Regions from separate parts of the Homo sapiens genome. Here region 2 is linked to region 1. The links come from fine-mapping of genetic effects on gene expression. A gene starts in region 1. The other region holds a variant in brackets. All regions are shown on one strand. Distances are between the middles of the regions.

The links. PIP is the estimated chance that this variant, and not a neighbour inherited with it, causes the effect.
Region 2: its variant is fine-mapped to the expression of SMC6 in lymphoblastoid cells (GTEx, PIP above 0.99).

The regions. Positions count from the first base shown.
Region 1 is chr2:17,752,318-17,755,223 of GRCh38, reverse strand. SMC6 (structural maintenance of chromosomes 6) reads left to right here and starts at 1,414. Exons shown (of 28, transcript NM_001142286.2): 1 at 1,414-1,598; 2 at 2,160-2,246. It overlaps GEN1 (GEN1 Holliday junction 5' flap endonuclease), which reads right to left and starts at 1,086. Exons shown (of 14, transcript NM_001130009.3): 1 at 879-1,086. RefSeq lists silencers at 1,299-1,438, 1,579-1,938.
Region 2 is chr2:17,791,047-17,793,952 of GRCh38, reverse strand. All of the region lies in intron 3 of LOC105373449 (a long non-coding RNA gene), which reads left to right. Among named protein-coding and RNA genes, the nearest start is that of MSGN1, 24 kb to the left of the region's middle. RefSeq lists a silencer at 2,097-2,391. The variant C/G (reference allele first, on the strand shown) is at 1,179.

The DNA.
Region 1 (2,906 bases):
CCGTGTTTCCCATTGGTTACAACAAGGCCAGATGTTTTGGTCTATTTTGACTATGTCATATTTTTCGTTGATCCATGGCAAGGGCCACAGTAGGAATATAATATATATGTGATTACTTTTAGAAATAAAAAGTGACTTTGATGTAAAGAATTCCATTACCGGAGGCCAGAATTTCAACATCAATTTATTTGGAGGTGGAGTGAGGTGGCAGTCAATGCATTATTTTCCCCACACAGAAGAGAAGATTTTGGAGTATGAAAAGTAGGTTACTTGTTAGGTCAGCATATTCATGGGAAGGGTTGTGTAAAGACTGAAGCGGGAGTGTGGGGTTGAGAAGGGCGCTGAAACCTAAGCCAAGGAAGTTAAGACTTCATTACTTCTGACGTTTATTTAGGGGGTTTACACTCTAGGTTACCGTGGGGGAAAGACTGATTGTAAATAACTACAATACCTTAAAGTAATTACTATAACAGAACTATATCCGAAATACAAGGTTAACACGGAAAAGGGAACACCCAACTGTGCCTATGGGGACCAGGGAGGGCTCTCCCGGGATGGCTTTGAGCGAGGCGTGGGAATTATCCCCATCGCATGCCCGGGGGAAGCACAGCGGGACCCAGCAGCTTCGGCCAAGCGCAAGCGGCCGGAGAACGCGCAGCTTTCCCGAGGCGGGGTGACGCAGGGCCCTCGCGAGTGGAAAACAGGGGCCAAGTCGCGGCCTGGCGGCTCGGTTCGGACTTCCTACTTTATTCAAAGGGAGTCATTGAAGGCGTTTTCGGAGGAGCAGCGAACAAAGAGCTCGTCCGTAAGCCAGATGGTCAAAGGAATCAGTGGGAGGACCCGGGCGGCGCCGTCTCTCCACGTCCCGCGGGACTTACCCGGACAACCCTTCCTCCTTGGCTCTGGAAGAAGCCCCTTCGTCATTTACCAGTTTGGCCTGAATCCTAACTACTGTGCCTCCAAATTTCTGAATTTTCTCAAAAGGAAAAAAAAAAAGGAAAGTCCTCTTTCTTTACCCAAGCAAAGACTAGCTCCCCGGGCTCAACCGCCAGGCCCAGGAGCACCAGGAAGCGTTTCGAATCCAGCGCCGGGCCCGCGCGGCCCCGCCTCTTCCGGGAAGTGACTGACCCCTTTCCCCCAATGGGGCCCGCTCGGCTTTCCCTTGCCGGCTCCCAGCCGGCCTAGCGGACGCATGCGTAGACCAGCTGCCGGGGGCGCTCAATTATCTTTCCCTTTTACTTAGGCAAATCACTCACCTCCCCCGAGTCCGGTCACTGCGGAGCCGCCCGTGCCTACCAGCTTCCCCCACCCGCTAAGGGGCACTTCCGGCCTCTCAGACTCCGGCGGCGCGAAACCCCGCAACTGCGCAGGCGCGGGCGGAGCCCGAAGGGAGGGAGGGCGGGGCGCAGGCGCGGTTAGTACCGCGGTGGGCGCCGGGGCTCCCGGGAATCTACCTTCTCCTGCGGCCGGCACGCGGTTCCCAGGGGGCCAGCGGCGGTCAGCCGAGGTCGAGACGCCCGCAGGGTGGCCTTAGCGGCCGGTCGTACCACGGCAGCCCCGCCGATCAGGTTCCTTTGGGAGACTTCGACTTGTTGGCGGTAGGGTGAAGGCGCGCGCTGTCGCTTTCCCTTGCTCCGGGGTTCATCCTCCGCCCGCTGCCCCCTTGGCTGGCGACCCCCAGCCACCCGGGAGAGGCAGGGTCAGCTGAGCTGCGGCGGTGTTCATGGTCGTCCTTGCGGGCCCGGGCGGGAGATGTCCGTTCCTCGGGCGGGTCGGGCGGCCGGCGGCACCTTCGCGCGCTCTCCGAGGCGGCACCGGTCTCCTGAGCCGCGGGAAACCTGGCGTCTGCTCCGGGCCGTCCCCTCCCAGGCGGCCGTCCCCTCCCAGGCGGCCGTCCCCAGACTCTCCCGGGCTGTGGCGAATAACTGTAAAGCGGGGAGAGGTCTGGGGAAAGCTGGGGTAGGGAGTGGCTCTTAGCATGAGTCTGATGATATCTCGCAGGCGGCAACTGGTGTGTTTAAAGGGTGTATGCAAAGATCACTGAAATCGGATTTGTCATTAAAGCCCAGTTTTACGAAAATGCAAATTGTATTACCTAGAAAAATTAACATGTGTTCAAAGGTTTACTGATGGCATTTCTCTGCCCTCATTTCTTACAGAAATGAACCGGAGAAGAATCCCAATTGGGAATTGCGGAAAACAGGACTCTAGGGTAGAGAAAGGTTGTAGAACCAATAGGGTTTGAGGTAATACTGTGAAAATTCTTAGAGCAATCATTTGGTGTTTGAGCCCTCAAGACAGAAGTTTTGTGAGCGCTTATTACTCTGCATATGTCACGAGTAGTAGATTAAAAGCCAGTGTTTTAAAGGCAAACTTCTCAGTAATATATATTCAAAGGAAAAAAGAAAAACCCAAATCTCCTGACTTTTATATGGTTGCAGTGTGATCTTTTAACATGTACAATAGTATATACAGTGGCATGCAGTTTGTTCCATGGGTGTGTGGGTAGAGAGGGAACATATTAGAACTTCTATTTAGATTTATTTCATTTGATTTCTACGTGAAACATAGGGTATTAATTTTATGTTGGAACATGTATTTCAAATTTCTTTTGCTTAATGGGTGCAAGTACAAAACGTTTGGAGGCCACTAGTATATTGCCTAAAAGCGTGTATTTATATCACAAAAAGCCAGAATTGTGTGACTCTGAGCAGGTTGGTACCACCTCTTTAAGTTTCAGTTCTTCTTATGCAAGTTGGAAGAAATAATACAGTTATCAGTGCATCCTCTGTATCCGTGGACTCAATCAAGGGACTGAAAATATTTCAGAGGAAAAAAAGTGGATGGTTGCACAGACTTTTTTTTGTTCTTGTCATTATTCCCTAAACAGTACAGTATAACAACTA
Region 2 (2,906 bases), 39 kb before region 1:
GTCCTGGTCTTGCCAGCTATCACTGTAGAGTCAGTTATGTCTCTGAGTCAGGGCTCATCTGGAGCACAAGGATAGTAACTAATTTTACCTCACTGGGTTGTAGTGAAGATTAAATGAGATAAAGCACCCGGCACATTGAAATATTTGTTAATGTGACTTGTTTCCTTCTTTTACTTTAACATAGCAAAGCTGCAGTATTTTAGTAAATCTGATACCAGTTATTTTGCACTAGTCATTCTCTGAAACTCAGTTTTAGATGGCTTTCTGGGTTCCCTCCAGCTGCAAAAATATAAGTATCTGAGACTCTGAGTTTGTTTCCAATAGGCTTTCTCTGGGTTGGAGAGACTGTTCCACAAAGCCCAGGAGGCTGCAGATGACAGTACCAAACCAAGACATGCAGCTGTCCGGCTGCAGTAGTCTGTGTGAAAGATGAGTAGAAAGAGAGGAAAAAGTCAGAGCTCAAGAAGAGCTCTAAAAGAAAAGACAGCTGCAAGTTTGTCCTCGAGTAAATCAAATTGTGACGTTTATTGGGCTATTTCCAGAATAACACCTGCAAGAAAACTGGAGTGCAGGATTACCTTTCCAAGAAGGATTTAGTTACGATAGCCTACAATAACCAGTATTGTCTAATGGAGTCAGTGTGGCTTAATGAAAAGGTTATAGGTTTGGCGGTGCACAGACCTAGGTTTTAGTTCTGTCGCTCCTACTTTTTATTAGTGATTTGGAGCAGGTTATTTAACCTCCATGCCTCATTTTCCTCCTCACTTAAAAAAAGGTAAATAATATGAACCTTGCAGGGTGATTGTGCGGGTTAGGAAGAAAAGTACTTGATATACAGCTGATATTCAATAAATAGGAGCTATATGGCTAGGAGCACATTACACCAGGGCACATATCCTAGAGGCCTCTGGACCTGGGACCATCATTTCTGAAGCTTATAGCTTGTTCAGGGTAGAGAACTGAGGGGGGTTTGGGAGGAGGCAGCAAGTCTGGGGTGGGTAGGTAGAGAGCAGAAAAGAGATCAAAAGGCCTATAAAGATCTGTCAAACTTTAAAATGCAAATCCTGTTGTGGCTCAGTAGAGACCAAATCTTTCATTATCACCTCTCTGGGAAGGGCTTGAGGGGTGGGGGGGTGGGAAGGTTAATTAGTCTTTCCCTTCATGGAGTGTTTTGGTTT[C/G]GTGTGGTGTGGTTTTGTGGCCAAGCCTGGGTATGTGATAAATCTTTTATTCAACTCTGCCCTGGAAACATGGGTAGAGTTAAGAAACTAACAGCATATGGTTTTCTTTATGAGTAGACCATGAGTTCCTCAAGGAAAGGAAACTATCTAACCCTTGTGATAGCTCCTACAGTTTGCAAGATTCTTGGCATAGAGTATTTGCTTCCTGAATGGATGGATGGGGTGGTGGATGGATGAATGTTAATTCTGAGCATAGTAAGTCATCTTCACTGGCTGGCAATTTAGTTCTCAGGGGTCTCCTTGCTCTATCCTTCACTGGGAGCCATGATAGGAGCAATCCTCATGATGGTGGCCCTCTGGGAAACTCTGGGATGGTGCAGTCTCTTCCAATGGCCAAGGGTCTGTGCAGTCCAATCACTTGGGCAGATTATGCTGCATGGCAGCTTTGCCTTACTGCTGGCCCTAAAGAGGTAGCCTCCTAGGTCCCACAGTTGGCCATTTATTTCTGGAGAGAGCGTGGAATTCCAGGAAAGTCCCACAGAGGAGACCTTCAAGAGTAAGTGGGCCAATAATTATCTGGCACTCACTGTGTGCCAGTCTCGATCCATCTTGCCCCTACCACAACCATGGCCAGAGTGAGAAAGAAGAAACCTCACTGCCTTGCTTTCTCTTTCCTCCTTTCCTCTTCTCTTGCCCGCGTTTTCTCATAAAACTATACTTGTAAGTAAAGAGTGAGGCTTTTTTCCAGAAAAAAGTATCTAGCAAATGTCCCTCTCTGGAATGCCCTAAAACACATGTCATTGATGACTCTTTCCTGGATAAACTCACTGATTCTCTAAGTCTCATCCAAGACCTGACAGTCTTACCCTCCCCCTAACTGGCATCCACCACAAAAGGCTCCTATCAAGTTTCTCAGCTCTAGGAGGCCCTATAAGGACCACCTGTATCTTCACTGACCACTCTCTTCTACATTCTGGTGCCCTCTGATACATTTCCCTTCACTCAGCACTTACTGTATTTGTTATCTCAAGAATAAATGAGTCTGGCATCACAACTAACTTATAAACATCTTGAAGGGAGGAAGCAGATGTTTTCCCATGTACTTGGCAGTATGCCTGTCCCAGGACTGAATCCATCTTAAGAATTCAATAAAAAATTGCAGCATGTTCGTGGTCAAAGCCTGGGCTTTGTCTTTACATAGATTTGGGTTGAAAAGCTAACTTGATTTATTCATTGAACAAGTATGTATTAAATGCATACTGCATATTAGGCACTGTTCAAAGCTCTGGGAATACAACAAAGAGTAAAGCAAAGTTTATTCTCTTGTTATGTTACTCTAGTGATAGGAGACAAAGAAAAAAATCTAATAAGTTGTAAAGAAAATAATACAGGGTGAGAGGCAAGTGTGAAGGAGTGGTGGTAGGAGTGGGAGGTGGCTACTTAGCTAACGTGCTCACAAAAGTACTAGCCAAGAGGCTGAGACCTCGGTGGTGATAAACAGCTTACCATCCAGAGGTCTGTGGGAAGTCCACACAGAGTGGGCAGCAATGGCAAGAGCCAGAGTGTACAGTAAGCTTGGTATGTTTAAGGAAAGAAAGCAAGCCATGTGCCAAGGGCCAGGGGAGCAAGGGGAAGCGACGGAGGATGAGGTGAGGGAGACAGGTAGCCACAGCTGCTGAGGAGGCTGGGATTTACAGAGGGTGATAAGAAGCCATGGGACGCTTTTAC